Linked DNA regions of Homo sapiens: all the other regions are linked to region 2. Evidence: fine-mapped QTL for protein levels in blood plasma. A gene starts in region 2. Each other region holds a variant in brackets. All regions are shown on one strand. Distances are between the middles of the regions.

Region 1 (8,184 bases), 130 kb before region 2:
GATGGGATGGATGGGATGGACAGATGGAATCGATGCGATGGATGGGATGAATGGATGGGATGGACAGGATGGATAGATGGATGGATAGGATAGATGGGTGGGATGGATGGGATGGATGGATGAACGGACAGGATGGATAGGATGGATGGATGCATGGATAGATGAATGGATGGGATGATGGGATGGATGGGATGGATAGGAAGGATGGATGGATGGGATGGAGAGGATGGATGGGATGGATGGATAGGATGGATGGATAGGATGGGATGGATGGATATGATGGATAGATTGGATGGATGGATGGGATGATGGGATGAATGGATTGGATGGATGGATGGGATGGATACATGAATTGATGGGATGGATAGGATAGATGGATGAATGGGTGGGATGGATAGGACAGATGGATGGATGGGATGGATGCAATGGATGGATGGGATGGATAGGATGGATGGATGGGATGGATAGGATGGATGGATGGGATGATGGGATGGATAGAATGGATAGATGGTTGGATGAACAGGATTGATGGATGGATGGGATGGATAAATGGATGGATGGATTGGGTGGGATGGATAGATTGGATGGATGGATGAGATGGATGATGGATGGGATGAATGGATTAGATGGATGGGATGGATTGGATGGATGGATGGGATGGATGGATGGATGGACAGGATGGATGGGTGGATGGATGGGATGGATGGATGATGGATGGACTCAATGGATGGGATGGATGAGATGGATGGATTAGATGGATGGATGGATTAGATGGATGGATTGGACTGATGGATGGGATGGATGTATTGGAGAATGGATTAGATAGATGGATGGAATGGATGGGATGGATGGATGGATGGGAGAGGATTAATTATGGGAATTGGCTCATGCAGTTATGAAGAATAAGAAGGCCCATGATACGCTGTCTGCAAGCTGGAAAACTGGGGAAGTTGGTGGCATATCTCAGTCCAAGTTCAAAGGCCCGAACACCAAGGGAGCTGATGATGTAACTCTGTCTAAGGCCAAAGGTCTGAGGACCTGGGAGGCCAGAGTCTAAAGGCTGGAGACCTGGAGTTCTGATGTTCAACCAAGGGCAGGAGAAGATGAGTGTCCCAGCTCCAGAAGAGAAAGTGGGCAAATTCACTTTTCCTCTATTTTTGTTCTATCCAGGCCCTCAACTGACTGGATGGTGCCCACCCACATTGGGTTACGGGGGATCTTTCTTACTCAGTTCACCAATTCAAATGCTGATCTCTTCCAGAAACACCCTCCTCATGGATACATCCATACATAATGCTTTACCCGCTTTCTCGGTGTCTGTTAACCCAGTCAAGTTGACACCTAAATTAACCACCACAGTCACACAGCTATGAAGTGGTAGAACAGGGACACTGAGCAGGTTGCCTGGGTGCAGAGCTGATGCCTTAGCCCTGGCATACTGCCTCCTGCTCCTTGTAGAAAGGGACAAAGGTGGCACTTGCAACTTCATGGTCTTCTTTGGAATTTCTCTGGATGATTTTTCAACCATGCTCTGATATGTGCTCTCGAAACCCTGAAGTGACGTTCTATTATAGCTACTGTCACATAACAGGACATACCTGTTTAGGACTGTGGTTCACATTCCTGATGCCATTCCAGAAGGACTGTGCCAAAATATGCTTAGCACTCACTGATTTGAAGTATTCTTCCAAACCCACCCTTCCCTGAACCTCTCCCTGCAGGGTCCAGCACAGGAAATGGTTTCTGACCACTCTTGACATTTACTGCAATTTTTTTTTTTAAGACCGAAAGCGTGAGCATGCATATATTACACTTTCAAGTCACCATGATGCATTTCTCCAGCATTAGCTTGTGCTTTTACAACTGGTCTTCATCAAAGGTTTTTCATCTGCTCGCCAATGTGGCATGTGTCCTAATGACTCATGATGAGGAGTCGTTCCTTTTAGCATGATTTATGCTCGCTTATCATTCTCTTGTTCTCCAGAGGGGAAAGCTGCTCTACTGAATGAGCTCAGCCCACATAGAAATAGCCACTAAGCAGCTGTCTCTTCATGTTAAGAAAACTAGCTAATGGCAGTGTCCACGAATCATCCCACTTGAAGATTAGAACAAGACATCTGCTTCTCGTGTGGCAGAGCTTGGGCTAAGAGGGGGAACACCCACCCCCCAGAGAAAACCCTGCTCCTCTGACAGCTCCTGGACTCACTTTGCTTGAGCAGATCTTTGTGGGTTGGGTGGGGGGAGGGCTTCTGCTCTCCTCCTCATACTGTCCCACTCTTCCTCCCAGAGGGCTTGTAGGGACCAGGGCAGAGCCTGGGATAAGCAGGGAATGAGATGCGGTTCTTGCCTGGCCTGAGCTGGCACAGGCTCCATGAGAGAAGCCTCAAGGATGAGTGAGGTGAGCCCTAAGCCCTCCCCGTTTCTCTTCACTGGCAGGCCTGCCATGCCCCATCCTGTACCTGGAGTTGAGCAATTACAGCACAGGATGCTGAAGGCCAGACTTCCAGGGCGCTATGTCTCTGCCGGCTCACCCAGCCCAGTGCTATCTTCAGTCAGAGCCATTCAGTGGCCATCCTCCAAGGTCCTATGGCCCCTCTGCTACCCTTCCCCAGTCCCCTCCTGGGCAGCACTGTCCATCTTCCCAGCTCATCCCTTCCTTTCCCTTGGGAGGCTCCGGAGGTGTGTTCAGCTCTCAGCCATTAGAACAGGTTTGTAGCTTGGGGTCTGCAGGCAGCCTCCCTGGGTCTGCAGCCAGCTCTGGCACCTATCAGCTGCGTGACCTGGTGGGAGTCATTTGATAGGGCTGTGCCTCAGTTTCCTTGGCTGGAAGACAAGGACAGTAATGGCACATACCTTATAGGGTTGATGTGAGGAATAAACAAGATAATGCAGGTGAAAATGCCAAGCGCAAGTCATGTGCTCCCTCTGTGTCAGCTGTCGGCATTGTCACTGGCTCCAGGAAGAACCTGCGGTCTGGTCAGCTTCACCCCAGCAAGAGCAACTGACAACACTTCCTTCTCAGGATGCAGTCTTGGCCTCTTCCCCTGCGGATGCTCTCCTCATCTCCTCTTGCCTTGCTCACAGAGTCCACCTGCACAGGTGTGTTACTCAGCGTCAATTCCACACCCGGTCCAGGCGGGAGGCCCTTTCCTTGGCCCTCCTGAACTGCTGTTCTTCCTTCCTTCCTTCCCTAGGATCCAGAGCATCCATGGAGCCACCACCGTAGTGAGGACAAAGGCCACTGACCGCTCTGCTCACATGCTCCCAGGCCTCCTCTGAACTGTGCAACAGTCGCCATCGCTGGGGAGGCCCCTCTGTTTTGCAGGGGTTTCTTCACCTGTTCAGAAATTGCTTCAAGACAATAGGACTTAAGAGTGTACTGACAGCCTGGAACTGTCATTAGAACCATTAAAACGTCATCTCTCTTGACATAAACCATAATTAAGACAATTAGGGCACCATCTCTCTTCCCTGACATCAGTCCCCCTTTACAAACCACAGAAGTCTCATGTTCTGGCCATAGTTCGCCCCGGTCACCAGCCCCCGGTGGCATTTGGACAGGGGCCACCCTCGGAGCACGGCTTTCCTGCACCCGAAGTGGGGTCAGCTTGGACAGCTTTGGGGCATTCCTGTCGTGAGCCCATCTGCTGACTTGTCCTGCAATGCCACCCTCTGTGGGTTCCACACTAGCAGTCCCAGCTCCCAGTGGTGTCGCCGGCCAGCTGGCACTCAGGCTGATGTCAGGTGGTGATAAGTACAGGTTTCTTCCTGTCTTCCTTTTGCTACACTCAATGAAAGTTTGTGAGGCCTGAGAACTGAACAGACTCAGGTTTTGACTTACTTTGGGAAGTAAGAAACTGCTCCTTTTGTACCTCAAAAAGAAGCCTCAGGTGTGTGGCAATCTCAGATGGTGTCCCGAGTCCAGCTCTCGTTCGCATTCAGTCCCAGCTTCCTCCCCACGGCTCCACCTCACACACTCACCCTTAGAACGCAGCCCCTTCATGGCAGGAGGACTAGGAGGGTCCAATAAGGCAGTTTAAACATTGATGATGTCATCATGGCCATACTATTAAATTTTGTAAAAAGCAAACAGCAAAGGTTTCCAGGAAAACTGATTTTTAAATCCTAGCATTAAACAAAATAGTACAACCTCGCTTTATACTAATATCAAAACACACTTCCTCCTGCCCACGGAGGGTCCCTCCTGATGGGGACTTCGTCTTACCTTTCTTTGAATCCCCAACAAAGCACCTGGCTCCATGAGGGTTGTCTCCAGGACAACTGAATGATACTCTGAAGGGGGGATGGCAAAGCTAACTGGCCCCATTGCAGCTAGTCTCAGAGATGTCTGCACAGAGGCAGCAGACAGCCGAGGCACACGCCTGGTCATTATGGTGTTATCCTTCCCTCGCCTCTACCGGAGCCAGATCCAGCTAGTGCAGGCTGTCCAAGGGCCTTCGGCATCAGGAACGGTGCAGGGAAGGAGGTGGGTGCCCATGGGCATCTCGTCAGGGCACTTACCACCCAGCCAAAGGAATATCTTCACTCGCCCACCACGGCTGG[T/C]AGTTAGGACCAGCCAAGTCTGCCACGGTGGTGCTCAACCCTGTTGCTTCTGCAGATCACCTGGGACACTTAAGAAAAATACTTATGTCCAGGTAAAAGTAAATCAAATCACCCCCCTACCTGGCAACTTTGGTTTTTGCTCCAGGTGATTCTAATGTCCAAGCAGAACGAAAGCCATTGGTCTAAGATCTACCAATCACATTGTATGAATGAACGCTTAGTTTGTGAATGAATGGGTAAACATGAATGCAGAGTCCTATGGCTCTGTAACAGTAGAAGGCCAATGTATTAGGAAACAACTCTGGGTTTATGACCTGGACCCTTTGTTTTAGTTTCTAACTCTACCAACAACTACGGGATCTTGGGCAAGTGTCTAAACCTCCCTGCTCTTCCAGTCTCCATCTGTAAAATGGGTGACGTGGCCACAGTGATCTCTGAGGTCCCTTCATTCCCTCTGCATTGATAGAGGTTCTACTACCTTGAGCCGTCGCTGTGTGTCAGACTCTGGTCTGGGAGGTGGGGATTCAGCCCTGGGGCCTTCAGGAGCTTACCTTCCAGCAGACATCCTCACTTCCATCTACTTCCACTTAGAAAGTCTACAAATCCAGGAGTCTACTTCATTTATCTGGACAATAGCCCAGTGCAGAGAAGCAGAGACTATACCAACTAAAAAGCAGAGGAACTGGAGAAAATTTTCCCTGAATCACTCTGGAGGGCTTCAAAAGAATGGAGACAGATGAGATAGGAGCCCTAGAGGATGGGGAGATAGTAGGTTTATCCAGAAATCTCTTTTATATTAACACCAACATTGCAAAGGCTGGTTCTTTAAGTACTATATTGCATATATATTCCTAAGAAATACTGTTCCTGCACCTTTGGATGGGAATAATAATAATAATGATGATGATGATGATGATGATGGAGGGACTTCTGTGGTTTTGCAGCTTTTCATATTTTGCAGAGCATTTGACCATCCACTCTTAGCAGTAGCCCACCCACTGGCCACCTGGGGGCTCCCCAGTCCACTTCTGCATCCTGCATAAGGCCTGCAGTGCCCACTCTCAGCCCCTTCCTCCCTGAACACTGACACCACCTGTATGTGTACTGCCAGCCTGGATTCCCTTTCACTTGACAGCAACCACCTAACCCTACATGTGCTCTGCAAAACACAATGACACACACAGTTACCCTCCAAAGACAGTACCGGGAAGGAATGATGTCAGGCAGTGATGTCCTAAAGCCCAGACACCAGGTATGCCCAATCCTCACCAAAACACCTAAGTAGCCCTGGAACGTGCACATGGTCTTCTGTTCTGCGATCAAAATGTTCCATTTGTATTGAGATGGCCTCTTCGCTGCTGAGAGAATGCAGGAATTGCACTGAGTTTAGCAAAGGAACTCGATCTGACTCAATACAACTTAGAACAAAGAGGAACTTCTCAAGCATGTGATAATCTATTCTTTTCACCAACTTTCTCAGGTGCACGAAAGTGGTCATGCATTTCTACGCTGTATTTAAAAGAAAAACATTTTATTGACTCTTTAAATAAAACTCTATCCACAACTATAAAGGAAAATGGGGAAATATGACCTGTCACACAATCGCATAAAAATTTACATCGCAGATAAAATACTACAATCGCTTCATGAAATAACTTGCATCCATCAACCGTGGAGATGGGCAAGGAAATATAACCATCCTCATTTTATAGAGGTAAGAACAAAGATAAAGATAAGAATATATAAAAGCAGAGGTTAGAATTATAAAACCAGTCAGCCTTGCCAAGGGCTCAGGAAAGGCTCAGCAGCGCAAATGACTCCAGGCACTTAGAAGCAGGTGAGTTCCTAACCAGAGGTCATGGATTTCTGGACAACGGTGGTGTCTTTACAGGCACCATGCCTGGAAATAACTAGTAAGATAGGTGCCTACTCTATTTGGCAACCTCAAATAGAATTGGCCTCTCAATTTTCACAATGAGAAGATACCAAAAGGATTTTTGGCCATTTTATATCTGTGTCCCTATATTTATATTCAATTTTCACCTCCTGCTATATATCAAGCATAGAATAATATGCTAGGGACACAGTGGGGAACAATCCACTGTCTACTGACAATATTTAATTGGCCAATTCAGGCACACATTTAAAATAATGTAAGCATAAGTTTATTCAGATTGCTTTCTGCACTCTCATATCTTACAAAAACACTTTTATTTGCAATCTGTCTTTGTCCTCATTAGAGTCTGAGTCATCTCACAGTTTTCTAGACTATCACTTTCACCTGCATCTAAATGTCTCTGGATTCAGGATTTTTCCCTAATTATTTCTTAAATTCCTCCACCTCACTCATCCCCACTGCCTCCGTGCCCCACACGCCCCACCCGTGCCCCACACGCCCCACCAGTGTAATGGTCTCCCAGTGGCCTCCGACCTCTGCTCTTGATACTTTTTGTTTCATTCAGGAAGCCATTCTTAAAACACCCATTTCAATCCATCCATGCCCTACTTACCAACCTTCAGTGGCTTCCCCTGGTGCAGGGTGGCGTCTGAAACCTGGCCAGATCTAGTCTGGTCTTTGGTAGCCCCTTGGTCTCCCTTTTTTATTACTCTCTCAGCCCATGCCCTGGCATTCGGCCAGAGCCTCCATGCCACAAGCTCCTCACCCACCTGGGCCTTTACTTGCACTGCTTGCTTGGCCTGAAACTCTTCCTCCTCTCTGCACCTGGCTGACTCCCACAGGTGACAGTACTTCTAGCCTGTGGGCCTTCCCTGGCTGCCACACCAAGACACCTTTCTTTCCCTCATTGCCCATGCCCGTAAGCACTTCCAGTGCACGTAACAGCATAATCCATTATTTGTAAGATCATCTCTTTGGCATCTCACAGCTCCACTAGCCTGCAAGCTCTTTGAGGTCAAGGGCTGTTTCCCCCCTGTTCCCTACCGTGTCCCCAGTGTGTTGTTCAATGCTTGTTATATACCAGGAGGTCAAAAATAATGGTTGAATTTATAACAGCAGCACCAGCTAACCTTTGTGGGATATTTCCTATGCCTTAGACTCTGTAGTAAATGGTTTTATGGATTTTTGTATTTAATTCCTAAAACAACAGTAGGATCTTGGTGGTCTGTATCTAACAGACGTCAAACTGAGGCTTACACAGCTCAGTTCCTAAATTCACACGGCAGAGTGCAGCTTTCACCTGGGATTATCAGATTCCCAGCTCAGTGCTCTCAATTTACCTAGTGAAATAAATAACCTTCTTAGATATCCAAGCAAATGTGATACAGACGAAAAACCCTTCTTAAAAAAGCTTCAAGGAGCTTTGAGAGGAAAGTCAAGCTCTGCAAAGTTATAATACGTTTACAATATGAGCTATAGCCCTTGTGGCTTAAAAAAGTCTCTTTTCAATATTTTTGCAAAGTTTGTTTACTGAAAAGAGCGATCACATGCTTTCTTACTAACAAAAATAAAGGCCACTCATTTCTTTGTTCACTCAAAAGGTCTCAGGCACCTGATCTGGTCTGACACAGCAAAATATTTTACTATGGGAAAATGCAATTCTAATATTTGATACTTAGGTGGGAATTTGATGTCCTGATTTCCTTTGTTCTCTACTACAAACG
Region 2 (8,184 bases):
CTCAGTCCCACAAGACTTCCCCCCAATGTCAGATGCCAATCACAAGTAGTAGGTTGTCACACCTATACTTCTGACCAACTAGCTATAAGTTGGGGGTCCACAACCCCCTTCTCAGGTTCAGTTAATTTGCTAGGTAAGCTCACAGAACCACAGAAAACACTTGCTTATATTTACCAGTTTATTATATTAATGAAGGATGTAATTAGGGACACAGATGAAAAACAGTTGGAAGAGATGCAAAGGGCAGAGAATGTGGAAAGGGATACAGAGCTTCTGTGTCCTCTCTAGATACGCCACCCTCCAGGAACTTTGATTTGCTCAGCAATCTGGAAATTCTACAAACCTTGTCCTTTGGGGGGTTTATGGAGGCCTAATTACACAGCCATGATTAATTACACCATTGGCGATCAAGTCAACCTTCAATCCGTCTCCCCTCCCTGGAGGTTGCAAGGGAGGTGGCACTAAAAGTCCCAACTCTAATCATGCCTTAACAAGCTCATTAGCATACAAAAGACACTCTTAATACCCCAGAGATTCCAAGGATTTTAGGAGTTCTGTGCCAGGAACCAGGGGCAGAGACATATTTCTTATTATATCACAATATCACAGCTTGGTGCACAGAAAATAAAGCAAACAAAAATCAAGACAAGGCAATCATTAACTCTAGGAAAAGCAAAAAGTTACAAGAGGGATGAAATGCCATAAAACACTGCACGGCAAAACAGTGAAAAGTATTTGCAAAGTCTTCTTAGTGCAAACATTGAATTTTTTTTTAATGATGGCACTACTATATTGGGTAGTTGAAAAGAAGAGAAGGCAGTGTGTCTGGAGTAGGGTGAGCAAAGGGAGAATGGTAAGAAAGGAGATCAGAAAGGAAAACAGGAATTAGGTCATGCTGAGGTTTGGATTTTCTTTCCTAAGGGTGCTAGAGAGCCACTGGGGAGTTTTAGACAGGAAACTTGAATGCTCTAACTCATGTTTGAAAATAATAACTTTGGCTCTATTGTGGAGGAAAATATACCATGCAGGGATAAGGTGAAAAGCCAGTAGGCCCGTTGGGTAAGAGGGATAAGAGGCTTCTGCAGAAGAGATTTTTCCTATAATGTGGCCTGGACTGGGAAAGGCACACTTCGGGATGTAAGGAAGTGGGTAGGTGGGAATATACTTAGGAGGTTGGTGGCTTACGGAGTAAAAAGAGGGACACAGGGATGACTTCCTGCATGTCAGCACAAGGCATGTGGAGAAGGCAGAGGAGGTTGTTACTGGGTTCAGGAAGGCTGGGGAGGGAATGATTTGCAACTAGAGAGTCTGGGATCTAGGGTTCTGTTTTGGACTTGTTAGGCCGAGTTGCCCCAGAAAGTACCAAGTAGGCAACTGTGCCAGGGCTCAGGGTACAGACAAGGCTAGGGAGAAACTCAGAATATGCTCAGACTCAACAGGTAGTAATTCCTCCTTTTCTCTTGCCAATGCAAAGAAATGTTTCATTATATGTTTGGCGTTTTATACGGCCTCAATGGTATGATTTGGGGCACTGATTGATTGAAGACTTGATACTGAGAATCTAAGGGTAAACAAGCAGTGAATCCTGGAATATATCACAATAGGTAACCCATTCAAAGTGCTTAGGCCTCCCTGGTTTTCTATTTTGGGTCATATCTGTCTTAAGGAAACACTCTCTCTACCAAAGCTGAACTCATAAAATAGTAAAAGTCCTCCCCCGCCCACACACACAAGAAATAATTTCCCATTATTAGCTGGATTTAATAAACATTTTCTTCCAAAAAAAAAATTTGTCCCTGCTCAGTAGACTTCTCTTTATGTGTACAAAGCACGTGCCAAGTTAAAGACCATGTCAGGCACACTTTGAGACACTTTCCGTTTTTTAAAAAGTTCTTTCTTAATAAACATTCAAAAGGACCAATTTGTTTAAAAGTCTTTCAAAGCACAATTCACTACAGGTCGTAGAGTTCTTTAAACCCTCAGCAGGATTCTTTCTTGACTTTCTCATTGCTTTGTGCAATCTTTGTATTTAATCATTTATCCCCGAATTGGTCTTCGCAGTGTGGCTTTTAACAAGAACTGGGTTTTAGCCACATTACAGTAGACGCGGTGGGGGCGGAGGGCAGCAGTGGCAATCGCAAAATAAAACGTATCATAAAGTGGTAACGGTTCGTGATTTAGGCCAGTTGTTGAAAAATAAATGCCTGTTATATAGAATCACAGAACTTGAGAGCTTGCGGCCAAGGGAAGTCGTTCATCGGTGGACCGACAGCGCCCCGGGCGGCAGAAAGAAGGCGGCGGCGGCGGAGACCCGGGGAAGTTGCCGGATTTTTAAAAAGGCACCTGCTGGGTGAGTCCTCACTGTGCAAACGGGAGCCACAGGTGCCCGATTTTAAGGGGCTACAACTCGGGAAAACCTAAGTCTGTAAAACTAAGTACGTTAAACTAAGTAAGTTCTCGCTGTGCACCAAGTTGATGGGGGCGATTATTTACGGCGGAGAAACTGAGTGGAGGAAGGAGGGAGAATTCCGCTAAAGTTTGCCTGCGACTGACAGCTAGGGAGTGACCTGGAAGCCAGGAAGAGGGGCAGAGAGGAAACTAAAGAAGTAGGTAAGAGAGTCAGTTTATGAAAATAGAGCCTGCTGTGGAGAGCAGCAGGCACACCTGCGGAGGAGGGGGCTGCCTCACCTGCGGGGCCGCTGCGCGCCCCCCTAAGTGTGTTAGCGGGGGAGGCGGGGCTGGAAAGGAAACCTGGTGAAGGGCTGGCCCGGAGCCTGGGGTGGGGATATTCACTGCGGGATAGGGCCAGCAAGAGGACCCGACACGCATCGTCCCGAGTGACACGTGTAAATGTCAAGATACAGAGACATCTGCAAATGTCACCCAAGAGGGTGAGGACGGGGGAGCGGTCCCGAGGCTGTGCCCTCCGGGGCAGGTACTGGCTCCTGTGGGGCTGCGGGCCAAGTGTCGCCCTTCCCCAAGGAATTGGCACCTGGGGGGGGGGGGTCGGTCTCGCCGCGCTGGAAGCGCAAGCCCCGGGGCTCCGGAGATGCGCCGGGGCGCGTCGCCCCTCGGGGCAGCCCTGGACCTCGGCGCGCCCAGGCGCAGCGTGCGGTGCCCTCGGCGGGGCGGGCAGCGAGCCGCCCTAGTTCGGCGACTTACCTCGGGCCTCGCAGGGCGCGAGCAGAGCACCGGCCAGGGCGAGCAGGAGGGCGCGGGCGGGGGACACGGGCAGCGGGCGCGCTGCCATCGTCGCCGGCCTTCAGTGCAGCAGCTCTCGGGCCCGGCGGCGAGCGCTGCACCATCCCACGCGGGCGCCGAGCCGGGGCCGGGCGTCGCGACCGGAGGGATTTCCTGCCTCGGCGAGTCAGCTCCGGAGCCCTCGCGCAGCGCCCGCGCCGCCGCTGAGCTCTTCTAGCCTTTCATTTTTAAAAAAGTTTCCCCCCGTGTGTGTGCGTGCGTGCGCGCGCGCGCGCCGTTCTGGCACAAGCCAGCCTTGACCGTTGCAATAAATGAGCAAACTGTCCGAGTTGGCCCGGGGACTAGGAAGAGCGTTAGTGAGAGAAGGCAGGCCTGTGAAATGGATCCACGGCCAGCAGTCACCGTTCTTATTACCGCGGAACAAATTATTGTCTCCCCCGCACCCCCGCCAGTTGGCGGCGTCCCGCGGGTCCTAGAGACCGCTCGGGTCCCCCCGCCAGGGTCCCGCCCCGAGCCGCGGCTCGCTCACCCCCGAGGGTGGGCGGCTCAGACGTGGCTCAGTGGCGTCCGGGCGCCCGGAGCGCACACGTCCCCGCCCCAGGATGATGTGGCCGCAGGGCCCGGGGCGCCCGGCTGCCAAGCGCACATGCGGCGGCACGGTCCAGCTTTTCAGGCTGAAGCTGGAAACGATGACTCTGCTACTCGCTCCCCGGCTCTCTGGGAACCCTCGGAGTGCGGGTCAGGTCTCCACCGCGGCCCACAGCCCGGCGCGCGACCCCGCCCGGCCCTAAGCGCCCAAAGGGGCATCTCTCGCCCGAGAAACAAGCTTGGACTCGCAGGCACAAGACACCTGGGCGTTACTTTTGATCAACAGTGTTAGGTTTTACGTTGATAGATTGGCTCACGTTTCCATTCCATGACCTGGACCCAGAAAAGGGTGTACAGTGACGTTCCCCAAACTTTCCTGATTGTAAGAAGCACCTGGGTTGGCTTGTTAAAAAGATTCCCGGGCGCCCTCCTACGCTTTCAGAATGAGACTCTCCAGGCTGTGAGGCCAGGGGAGCCCAGGGTGTTTGGAGAAACACCAATGAAAGAATGGTGCGCCTTGCCTTCTCATCCTTGTTCCGGGCTGACCCCACCTCTTCAGCCTCGCTCGGCCCTCAGGGAGACCATGAAAAGCAGCAGCGAGGGGGCCCGCACAGACAGAAATGGCTGGAGCTATGGAGGATGGCTGATGCCCACCCTGCGGGTTACCATGATTCCCAACCTTGGGGACTTATTAGAATAGTAAGAGTTAAAGACATTGCCAGCCCCAGACACCAGTTAACTCAGTTTCCCACAATGCGTGGAGCTCAATAGTTTTCAAAGCCTCAGGTGATTCTACTGTGCTGCTCAGACCTAGGACCACCTGCAGAAATTCCATCCTGGTCCTGCGACCTCGCACCGATTCCTGACGGAGCACCCACTCCTAGGAGGCGGTTATCCAGCATTTGAGGAAGCTGCCTTCCATACCATCTCTTCCCACTGCAGAGGAGTTTTCTCAGGAGTTCCCTCCCACGGCAGGTTTTGCAGTGTTCCCAAAACCCAGGTCGATCCTCCTAACAAGGTGCAGGACTTTCTTTTTAAAAAACCTTAGTGGGAAGCACAGGCTCTCCAGCCCCCTTCCCAATGCTGCCATATCTCAGTACCAGATCTGGAAACCAGGCCTGGTTCAAGCCCTGTGTCATATCTAACCGTACTACCAACCAGCGTTGCAGTGTACTTCTTTTGTTCATTCATTCAGTCAATCTACATGAGCAACCCTATGTTAGAACTTGGGAAACTAAACGAGAAAGCCTCTTGCCTTCAAAGACTTTTCTTTCTGATCAAACTGATAAATCATCATTATTGGACAGTGTGAGCTAGTTACTTAACCTAGTTAATAATGATTAGGCTTGTTTACTGATATGGTTTGGCTGTGTCCCCACCCAAATCTCATCTTGAATTCCCATGTGTTGTGGGAGGGACCTGGTGGGAGGTAATTGAATCATGGGGGCAGGTCTTTCCTGTGCTGTTCTCATGGTAGTGGATAAGTCTCAAAAGATCTGATGGTTTTAAAAAGAGGAGTTCCCCTCCACAAGCTCTCTCTCACTTTCTGCCTGCTACCATCCATGTAAGACATGACTTGCCCCTTCATGTCTTCTGCCCTAGCCATGTGGAAATGTAGGTCCATTAAACGTTTTTCCTGTATAATTTTACCCAGTCTTGTGTATGTCTTTATCAGCAGCACGAAAACAGACTATTTACTACTTCATAATTCATTACATACCTCGTATAATCGGAGTATTGTGCTAACGTCTTTCACCTGCATTATTTCATTTTTTAAGTCCTGAATATACAGATGAGGAAACTGCAGCATAGAGATGTAGCTTTCCCACCACCACACAGTGAAGTAGGTCAGAGCCCAACCTCAGATCTGTTAAAGATAAAGCCTGTTTCTTTAAGGCTGAGTTCCAACCTTCAGTTTTAGCAGCTGTTAAGTGAAGGTAAAATACAAACCTCCCAGGTGGTTGTGAGCACCAGGTGAAATAATGCAATGTCTCCCAACCCACCTGATCCCTGGGATGTCTGTTAAGAATTCAATTCCTCTGGCGTTTGCACTGGAGATTCTCATTAGAAAGGTCTGGGAAGGACAAGTTTTAGCAAGTACTTAGGTGATCCTGATACTTGTGGCCCATAGAACTTCAGACACATCGACGCAAGAGAATTAAAAATTGTTTTCTTCCAGCTCAAAGGGCCAGATTTGCTTGCAGATGAGCCCAGCCACTGGCCTCTCGGATCCTTCTGACTGGTTAAATGGTTTATTCACAATGGACCTAACATGTGCTGTGCACTGGGCTGGGGGCCTTGTATACATTTTCTCTTAATGATCAATTTATTTTCGCTCTTTCATATTCAATTGTTAATGTTGACTGTAAAAGTCCAATTTCTTTTAAACCTGGATGTTGCAAAGCTTCCTCCAAAGAACTAAATGTGCCCCAAGACTGTCCTTGATTTGTTTCTGACTGAACGAAAGAAAACAGCCATTGCAGAGGAAAAATGAAGAAAAATAAAATCCTGGCTGCAAGCTCTGGATTTCAACCCTGTAATTCACCATCTCTGTGAAGCAAGCGGCCTGGGCTGACACTGTCTCCACAAAGCCTTCATAGACATCAATAACAGCCAGCTAAGGCAAAGAGCAAATCCTGCGTCTGGCAGATGGTCTGTCTTTGGATGGAAATTCTGCCTCCTCATTCACAGGAAATGGAAGCCGACATCACATTCAATACTGGATTGTTAGGTAATGGTGTGGGGTCAGAGGCCAGGATCTACACACGAAAATTTCAGATAGATGGCTGGTTGTCCCTTCCTTTCTGGAAGAATTGACCTTTGCAATACTGTTTCCTGTGTGCTATTTTCGTTTAACAGCCTGGGCATTCACAACGAACAGGGCACTTATTTCTTACCCAAGCTCATGTAAGCTCAATCTGCTCTGAGTACAAGCAGATGAAAAACGGAGACAAACTTTCCTAAGCCAGGAATTTACAGGCAGCCACTGCTAATTTCTGCAGTAAGTGAAGAGCCGGCCTCCTTGCAGAGTGACCTATTGACAGAACTTCAGACACAGGCTTGCAGAACAGCTTTCCTCTCTCCAAGCACAGTTCCCAAGGCTTACTCCAAACGTAAACAAATGTGATCACCCCAAGATTAAGATTCTTGGAAATCATTTTTATTCTATCTCTTGGAGAGATGAAAACTCCTGCTCCTCTCGGCGTATTATAATAACATGTAGTCCATTTTTCTTTTCCTAGATCTCTCACTTCAAGAATCCATGCCTTCACCTCCTCAGAAACCTGCCCCCAGTGAACCTCTTCTGGGCAGATTAAACCCTCTTGTCTCTGATGCTTTCATTATTGCACAGAATTAGCACTTAAGTAGCACTAAACGCCAAAGAAAGAATGCTCCTGGGGCTGGGGACAAGGAACTCGGGGATGCGCTGTGTCACAAGAGACAGGAAAGGTCACCCCATCTATATTCATCTATGTCACCTACCCACTGACCAGTCAACTTCTCCAACCAAGTGACAGTCATACTTCACTTAACAAAGATACATTCTAAGAAATGCATCATTAGGCAGTTTTGTCGCTGTGTGAACATCACAGAGTGTACTCACACATCTAGGTGGTACCGCCTACTACACATCTAGGTTTTATGGTATAACCTGTTGCTCCTAGGCTACGAACCTGTATGGCACATGACTCCACTGAATACTGTAGGGAATGGTACAGCAAAAAGGCAGAAAGGTACAGTAAAAATACAGTGGAAAAGATTTTAAAAAATGGTACACCCGGATAGAGAAGCTCCATTATAATTTTATGGGAGCATCCTTACAAGTGCTCAAGTGCGTACCACGTGATTGACCAAAATGTCATTTGGTGACTCATGACTGTACTGTGATGGGAAACTTATTATGCCCCTCCCTACACACCCCCAGATTCCATTTTACGTACCCCAAGTGACTGACAGTACTAAGAGAAACAGACACCTCCTGGAGCAGCAGCAGCTGCTGAGACAGCCTCCTAGACCAGGTGCTTATCTCTCCCGCCATCAGCGGGGGCAGGCTGAGTGCAAAGCCAGCACACAGCGAAAGGAAAAGGGGAATCTCAAAAACAAACATGAACTATGACAAGAATGACCAAACATTTGAGGATACTTCATTTAAGAAATAGGGCTGGCCGGGTGCGGTGGCTCACGCCTGTAATCCCAGCACTTTGGGAGGTCGAGGTGGGCGGATCGCGAGGTTAGGAGATCGAGACCATCCTGGCCAACACGGTGAAACCCCGTCTCTACTAAAAATACAAAAAATTAGCCGGGGGTGGTGGCGGGCGTCTGTAGTCCCAGCTACTCGGGAGGTTGAGGTAGGAGAATGGTGTGAACCCGGGAGGCGGAGCTTGCAGTGAGCCG
Region 3 (8,184 bases), 350 kb before region 2:
ACTGCCCTAGTGTAATCATACAAAAAAAATACAAAGATATATACTCAAAAACATAAATGCAGATAAATCAATATGGAATACTAATCTACAGGAACACAGAAAAAGCACAATGAAACAAAAACCAGAGAGAACAAACAGAATAATATTAACATGGTAGACTTAAATCCAAACATATCAACAATTGCATTAAATATGAATGTTCTAAACACACCTATTAAAATATAGTGACTGGCTAAATGGATGAAAAAATCTATATGCTGTCTACAAGAAACGCTTTTCAAATGTAATTCCATAGGTATGTTAAAAGGATGGAAAAATTCATACTTTGCTTTTTATCCTGTTTTTAGAAGTAACCATTTCTGTTTGCTGCAATCATGAATGATGTTTCCTATTGTGAAATATCATTCATGATTGCAAAAAGACAACACTAATACTAATCAAAATAAAACTGGAGTGGATATAATAATATCAGATAAAGTAGATTTTAGAACAAAGATTACCAGAGCTAAACAGAGACATGACATAATGATAAAAGGGTCACTTTACTAAGATGACACAACAATCCTAATTGTGTGTATCGCAAACAACAGAGCTTCAAAATACATGAAGCAAAAACTGATGAACTCAAAGGAGACACAATTATAGTGGAAAAGTCCAACATCTCCTCTTGGTAACTGACAGAACTACTAGACAGCAACAAATTGAGATATTTTGTTGTATTTATCAAACTGGTAAAAGTTAAAATTTAGTGTTAGCAAAGTCATGGTGAGAAAGACAATAACAATGTGGGAACGCAAATGTATATGAGTTCTGAAAAAATATTTTTATATTATGAGGCTTAAAATGGTCATACAATCTTTCAACCCAATATTTTACTTTTAAGAATCTCTCCTAGGGGAATAAAGAGGTCCCAAGATTTACCTCTCTAGAACTTTCTAACAGCAAAAAATGATACATCAATACATGCCCAATAATTTGCAAGTACTTAAACATTTATATTCAAGTATAGTGTTATTATTAAATAGGATTTTTAATGCCATTGTAAATGGGACTAATTTTTAAGGCAAAACAAAGCAGCATATAAAACTGTGTACAAATAAATTATGTTAAAATACACAATTATAAACAAAAAATATTAATAGCAGTGAAAAATTACCAGTGATTATCTCCTACTTATTTGCTTGTTTTCTCCTCCCTTCAAGTTTTCTATTGTGAAATATCATTCGTTATTGCAGCAAACAGAAATGGTTACTTCCAAAAACAGCATAAAAATGAGATGATATACATAAACAATACAGTGCTAAGTTTGGTACGGAGACACTCTGTATATAGGTGGTATAGTTCTTGTAAATAATTTTGAAATAAAATGATGAGAGAGTATAACTGATGCTTCTTAGGGTGACCATCTGTCTTAGATTGCCTGTCTCTATTTTACTGTACAGGCCTAATTATTACTAGTCCCTCTGCTATTCTCAATAGTGTCATCGTTTAGTTGCATGAGTGGTCTAACTATTCAAATACTTAAAAAATTATAACTAGTAAATTAAAATATATGACACTCTTATTATTATACTCCAGGCACCAAACTAACTGCTTTATGTGGATTATCTCATTTAACCATCTGAGTAGCTGAATTATCTCCATTTTACAGAGGCACCGAGAAGTTAAGCAACTTATCTAAGCTCACACATTAACAAGTAGCAGAATCTGGATTTGAACTACATCCTATCATATTAGTACTGAAAGCATACCTGGGCCTGCCTAAGTGCAGGCTTGGCTGGCAGGGGTCTGGCAGGGACGCTAGGTGCACGTGGAGCCCGGTGGAGGGGAGGAAGCACTCGCTGAGTTGACTGGGGCTGAGGGACATTCAGGCCGTTGAGGGGTCTGCTGATGTCAACATTCTGACACTGCAGCAATCTCCTGGGATTGTCCTGTACAGTCAAAGTAAAAAGCCATGCTATAGCGGGTTTCAAAAATATCAGTAACTCCTTAAGGAAAAAGCAGTGCTAACTCATCTGTTATAGCTGAAGGCCAAGGTGGGGTAAAGGAAAGAAATCAAGGATGTACACAAGAGGGGAATTATTTTTGTATTTATTTAAACTTCAAAATTCAAACAGAAGCATCACCTGCCTCCACCCCACCAAATCTGGAATAGAAGGATCGATTTTTGTTTAGATTTTAAAAAACTGTTTAACAAATAGGTGCAAAGCACTTGAAAAAGTACCAAGTATAAAGAAAGACACGGACCGAGATCTTAGGGAAGTTACAAAAGAGATGTGAAAATAAGATACAGCTTAATGTGTTCAAGGCTCAATGAGAACTGAGAAAACCACTGGGGAAAGGAGAGTTGCGGCTTCAGGAAGCCAGGGCTGAGGTTGGGGCTTGGAGTTGGAGACGTTCTCCCATATGGTAACCCTTGTTCTTAGAACAGGTGCTGCAGGGACCCTTATACCTCAGGCTTCTACCCCTTCCTTCCTCTCTTTCTAAAAACAGCTTAATTGAGGTATAGTTGACATAAAGTATACAACTTGGTCATTTTTTGACGTGTTTACACCCATGAAACCCTCACAACAAACAAGTGGACAAATGAATGCATCCATCACCCCAAAGAGTTTTCTTGTCATGCTTCTCCCTTCCCTCTCCCTCCAATCATCAGTCTGCTTTCTGTCACTATCAGTTTGCATTTGTCAGAATTGTATATAAGTGGGATCACAGAGTATATACTCTGGCTTTTCTTCTTTTACTCAGAATAATTATCTAGAGATTCATCCTCAATGTTGTATACATCAATGGTTCATTCCATTGTGCAAATATACCATTGTTTATCCTTTTACTGGTTGATGGATATTTGGATTGTTTCTAGTTTGGGGCTCTCAAAAATAAGGCTGTGCTTTTTTTTTTTTTTTAATAGAGCTGCATTTTTCTTTTTTACGAAAATGAAGATGTGCTTTTGGCTACCACACAAAGCCGTTCTCGCTTATGGTTCCACCTTTGGGGACGAGCAGGGGTAAAGCTTATTGGGAATGGCAGCCTCCTCCTTGGAGCCCCACCCTTTGCGTTTTTTGGATCAAGGGAGTTAAAACAGTTTATTGCCTACTGCATATGCAGCAATGATTTTTCAATCACTTATTTTTTTTGACACCAATCTTGTTCACTGTTATAATTTGGACTCTTGTTGACTAAGTTCAATATTCAAGAATTCTTGTGGGTACATCAGAAAAACTCGGTGGGGAAGAACTATTAGAATGAACTCTAGCTGTAATTCACCAGGGTAGCAAGAGGGTTAAGAGACAGCAGGGAGCCGTGAGGTACTCTGGGTTAAGGATCCAGTTCTCTGAAACCACAGGGTGGACAGGGCTTCCTCAGCTCAGGGCTGGAGCAAAATGGTCAATTCTGAGAGCTCCATGTAACTTTTGAAAAATATTTTAAGAGTAACAGTGGGCTAAAGCAGCTCACCTAAAGCCAGGTGGTGGCATTTGGAAACCATGGTGGGGCTGGCATTGGGGGCTGGTGTCAGGAGCCAGCTCGGGCTGCAGACCCAGTGGGGCCCCAGAAATGTGGCTGGTCTGGGTGACTGAAGGGATCACAGCTCACACTATGCTGCACCATATCATGCAGGGGGCACTGAGTGCGCCAACAGGATCTAGGTGGGCTTCCATGGGGGCACCGTGGGGCCTCCCTCTGGCCCCAGATCACAGAGACCCTCCCTCAGAGCCTGCTGACCTAGTGAGGCTGACTCAGCATTTCACAGGCAGCGCCTCTAGGATCCCATTCTTATTCAGTCTCGTATTGAAAACCTCATGTCTGCATGTGTGCCCTGAGCACTCACATCTACTCAAGACTCACCTTCGGTGGGTAGGAATCTGGCGGCTTCCTCATCAGGCCTTTTCCAAGGTGGCCGAGGTGAGCCTGACAGGGTTGGAAGCCACGGGGTGGCCGGGAAGGGCGCACACACCTGCAACAGAATCC[CA/C]TACCTGCTGACCAAGCGTGTTTCCCCTTCTCACTGACTTGACTTTTTACACTTTGCTCATAGTGGCACTCAAAAGACAGTTTACTTAACTCAGTGTGCTAAACATGCAAAGGAAAAATTACCTAATAACACTCTTAGGAGATTAAAAAATAAATACTGGTTTTTCCCTCAAAACCTCTATTTTGTCAAATTAGTTCTCACGCTCCATAGAAATGCAGTGTAGTGACACCTGGAAGATGATTTGTATGAAGCTGGCATTTCAGCGATAATGTCTTTGAATATATTTGGATCAAAAGCTACCCCATCTGATGAAAATATTTCAATGTCTCCATGTTGTATAAAAATTACTAATATAAGGGTGGGAGAAAACACATCAGTGGAATTTCCTGACACCCTGCTAGCTTATGTAATAAGCAGCACATTGTTGTTTGAAGGGAAGTAAAGGAGGCAGCTGATCTGGCAGAAATTTAAAACAAGAAACCCCCCAAAAAAGAACCAAGTCCCAGGTTTATGATCCAGAAAATCTGACCTTTGCTAAAAAAATGAAGTGAGAAGCAGTTTGCTGTACATTTTCTGAGACACCATTTCTTTTTTTTTTTTTTTTTTTTTTTTTGAGATGGAGTCTTGCTCTCTCGCCCAGGCTGGAGTGCAGTGGAGTGATCGCAACTCACTGCAAGCTCCGCCTCCCGGGTTCACGCCATTCTCATGCCTCAGCCTCCCGAGTAGATGGGACTACAGGCACCCACCACCGCGCCCGGCTGATATTTTGTATTTTTAGTAGAGACGGGGTTTCACCGTGGTCTCGATCTCCTGACCTCGTGATCCGCCCGCCTCAGCCTCCCAAAGTGCTGGGATTACAGGCTTGAGCCACCGCACCCAGCCTCTGAGCCACCATTTCTAGAACAGATGACAAGCTAAACCCAGGGTACCTTAGTTTTTCAATGGTGGTCTTCTTATTTGTAAACAGCAGTCGTATCAAGGTCTTCCTTTTGAGATAAACCACAAATCCGGCAGCAAGAAGACACAGGATGGTCACCAGAATTCCTATGGTTAAACCTTGGTTATCTGAAACAAAACACATGGGGCTCACAGAAGGAGGCAGTTACAATGAAATATGGGAGGTATCAAGTTGTGACGTTTATGGCAAAGTGAACTCTGAAGCAACAGAAATGAAGAGAGTACACCCGTGAGTGATGTACTAATAAACTGTCTTACTTCAGATGCCATGTTTGAGGTTCAATCTATGTTACCATCATTCATTTCTGACAACTCTAGAACTTGCTAAACAGGAATATATAGTCGGGTAGGTGGGGTGATGGTCTGGACCACGCAGGTTCCCTGAGGCGTGACAACGGCACAGTGGACCATGGTAGCCACAGAAGGTAGCAGGGAGCCATCACTGAAGCCTCACTGGAATCACAGCCATCCCCAGGCTCAAATGTTTCCAGTCCCCAGCACAGATTTGCCATTCCAAAGTGCTTTTCTTTACTCATTCTGTAGTTGGGTTCTGCTTTATCTCTTTTCGTGTTTTTAAAAAATGAATTGCTTTCTTGCTGGACATCTCAAAGTAGATAGTGAAAAAAGAGAAAGAAAACTCATTTAAATGAAACACCCATGGGTTTTGCTTTGTTATGTTGGGGACTTAAAAACACAGCCTTTGTGGGGGAAACCCTTTTCCTGGGAGGAAGCTATTTTCTCTATGAAAACATCTTCTTTTCTATGACCTGCTGCCATTTTGTTTAATACAGTTAAGAGCCTCCTCAAGGGTAGGGAAAGGAAGGAAAAAAATCAAACCATCAGGTTGGTTTCTTACAGTAGCTATGGTCAGCGGCTGTCTGGGAAGGACTCTAAATGCTCAGACTTAGAGGAGGTCTACCTGTGATTTCAACTGGACAGTGAATTTTTAGAGGACAGGGATCTTGATTCATTTGTCTTCCCATCAGCAAGGATCAGGGTGTACTTCACATCAGGTAAGTGTGCAACAGTCCTTTCCGGCTGCTGGTGATCGCCGTGATGCAGTTACCTGGGCTCTCCTCGGCCCTGCCTCCCACCTGGACCCTCAGCTGGCTGTGGATCACTGCAGCAGCAGCTCCTACTCCAGGGAAAGAATGTCTTTCACACCTTCTTGGTTTCTGGACCCCATCCCCCACTAACAAGGCCTATCAGGGATGTGTCTTAGCCTAAGCAAGACAGCCAACAGATGACAGTCTTGACTTACTTGTTGGTGTTACTGGAAAAGCATTGCTTCTGGTTTCCTGGGCAAAATGTCACTCTTTTCAGACCCTTAGTAGTGATCACAGGGGGCTCTAGCTAGAGTTCTGGTGTCTCATAACAAAGTTAATTAAAGTTAATTTAAAAAGTGAACAGCAAAAATCTTGAACTATAATTTCTAGTTCCATAAAGTGAATCCATAAATCTTCAATACATCAATCTATGAAACTGAACATTTACAGGGCCCCCACACTGAACCTGCTGAACTCCCCAGGGTTGCTCAAGCCAGAGGCCCGGGCAGTGACTGACTCCATTTCCCTCTTCCCCAGGACCAGCACGAGCACCGTGTCCTGTGTCCCCTCCTGTTGGCCCAGTCCGCACTCTAGAATCTGAGCCCAGGCCAGTCCACACTCCTCTAGATCTTCGCACAGCCAGCTATCTCGGCTTCAGAATGCATGTTTCCCTCGCCCCCTTCAGACCTCAACAGATGCAGGGTCCCCAGGAGCCTTCCTGACAACCCCCTGCCGCTCTGTGGGGGTTGCTCCCCTCCCATGATGCCCTCTCTCCCTGCAGTCGTACCCCTCACTTATGCCATGTCATTCTTGCTTAATGTCTCTCCAGGACCCAGGAGAGTGGCTGGTGTGTGGCAGACACACAAGTACTTGTTTAATGAGCCCCTGAGCCATGGCCAGGCCAGGGAGCAGTGAGCCATGCTTGCTCATGGCCTGCCTTGATTTTATATATGTATGAACAGGGTGGAGGCAGCGGTATTTCAAATGCACTCTATTTTATGCAGTAATGGCCACGGGGGATGGAGTTAGGCTCTTACATTGTTTTCACTTTTTAACATTCTTACTTGTTAAATGAAGGGTTGGTGACTCTGTGGGTTCCCTGGCTTTCTGCAAACCCTCAAACCTGAGTACTGCTGGTCACGCATGTCCACAGCAAAGAGCCAGAGTTCACCGCCCTTTCTCCTACCTTCTTCTCCAGTTTGTTTCATTGCCATTCAGTTTGCTTGGATGGAGATGGAATGGGTGGCAGGGTCTCTGATAAATTAAAAACTAAAACCCTGCTATTTTCATATAATAAATGCTAAAAGCCATATCAGAGCATTAAGTTGCAGCCAGAGACCAGTCATCAGGGCTGCCAAGGCTGAGGTGTCACTGGGGAAAGGGGACACTGGGCCCAACCCTTGCTTCTCCCCCACTGCTGTGGAGGCTCAGTGAAAGGCCAGACTTTTGAGTCCTCTTCCTCCTTGCTGCAGGGCTGGGGCCTGCCAGAGTGGTAACCTGCTACTCTCTCAGGAGCAGCACTGAAGCATGTCCATGTTTTAGCAGAAGCTCAACCAGGAAGTCGCTGCCCTTCCTTGCACTGTTTCTGCAGACGTGCCTGGTAGGCTGGACTTCCCCTCCTGAGCCCCGAGAACTGTGTTGTGTCTGTTGTCATGGAAACGATGGCAAAGCCACAGAGTCAATGCTGCCAGTCACAGGAGGCCTTGGGGACGCGTGACCTCCTCTGCAGCAGCACTGGTCACGGTCTCCATGTCATGGGAGGGCTCAGATGAGTGTCAGTGAGGCAGTAGACGCATGCTCCTGCGATCCCACGGGCTCCTGGCCCTGGCCGCGCTCCCTGTTGGACTCTGCAGCTTCCTGCCTTGCTTCTTTCCCTCGAAAAGAGGCATCATTTAGACTTGCCCCTGAATTGCCCAATAAGAACTCAGAGAAAACAGCACCGCACCAGTAAACCATTTCTAAAGGTCATCCGAGGAGAAATGGCCACGAGTTCAAGCACAGCTGCTACTAAGAGCTTCTTGGGGGACAGGCAGACCTGTGTGTGTGTAAATCTTAGCGAGATCACATTAGGCAAATTACTTAACTTCCCTGAGCCTCAGGTCCTAGGTATGTGAGAAAAGAATCATACCACCTTCTTCAGAGTTGTATAAGGAGGGGATGACATCATGGGCATAAAATGCACCACACAGCACCTGCACACATCATTCCATA

Alleles and levels. Alleles are on the strand shown, and positions count from the first base shown. The strength of an association depends on the size of the effect and on how common the allele is.
In carriers of allele C in region 1, the plasma level of the protein whose gene starts at base 3,582 in region 2 tends to be higher than with T alone (moderate association).
In carriers of allele CA in region 3, the plasma level of the protein whose gene starts at base 3,582 in region 2 tends to be higher than with C alone (weak association).

The links. PIP is the posterior inclusion probability: the model's chance that the variant is causal. The UK Biobank Pharma Proteomics Project read protein levels with antibody pairs (Olink). The fine-mapping took linkage between variants from a reference panel, not from the people measured, so its PIPs are less certain.
Region 1: its variant is fine-mapped to the plasma level of the ADAM12 protein (UK Biobank, PIP above 0.99).
Region 3: its variant is fine-mapped to the plasma level of the ADAM12 protein (UK Biobank, PIP above 0.99).

The regions. Positions count from the first base shown.
Region 1 is chr10:126,251,461-126,259,644 of GRCh38, forward strand. The region is part of intron 3 of ADAM12 (ADAM metallopeptidase domain 12); the gene reads right to left. Among named protein-coding and RNA genes, the nearest start is that of ADAM12, 130 kb to the right of the region's middle. The variant T/C (reference allele first, on the strand shown) is at 4,564.
Region 2 is chr10:126,384,896-126,393,079 of GRCh38, forward strand. It overlaps ADAM12 (ADAM metallopeptidase domain 12), which reads right to left and starts at 3,582. Exons shown (of 23, transcript NM_001288973.2): 1 at 3,163-3,582. The coding sequence starts at 3,250.
Region 3 is chr10:126,034,395-126,042,578 of GRCh38, forward strand. ADAM12 (ADAM metallopeptidase domain 12) reads right to left here. Exons shown (of 23, transcript NM_001288973.2): 19 at 4,900-5,035; 20 at 3,847-3,955; 21 at 1,752-1,931. Among named protein-coding and RNA genes, the nearest start is that of FANK1-AS1, 65 kb to the left of the region's middle. The variant CA/C (reference allele first, on the strand shown) is at 3,970.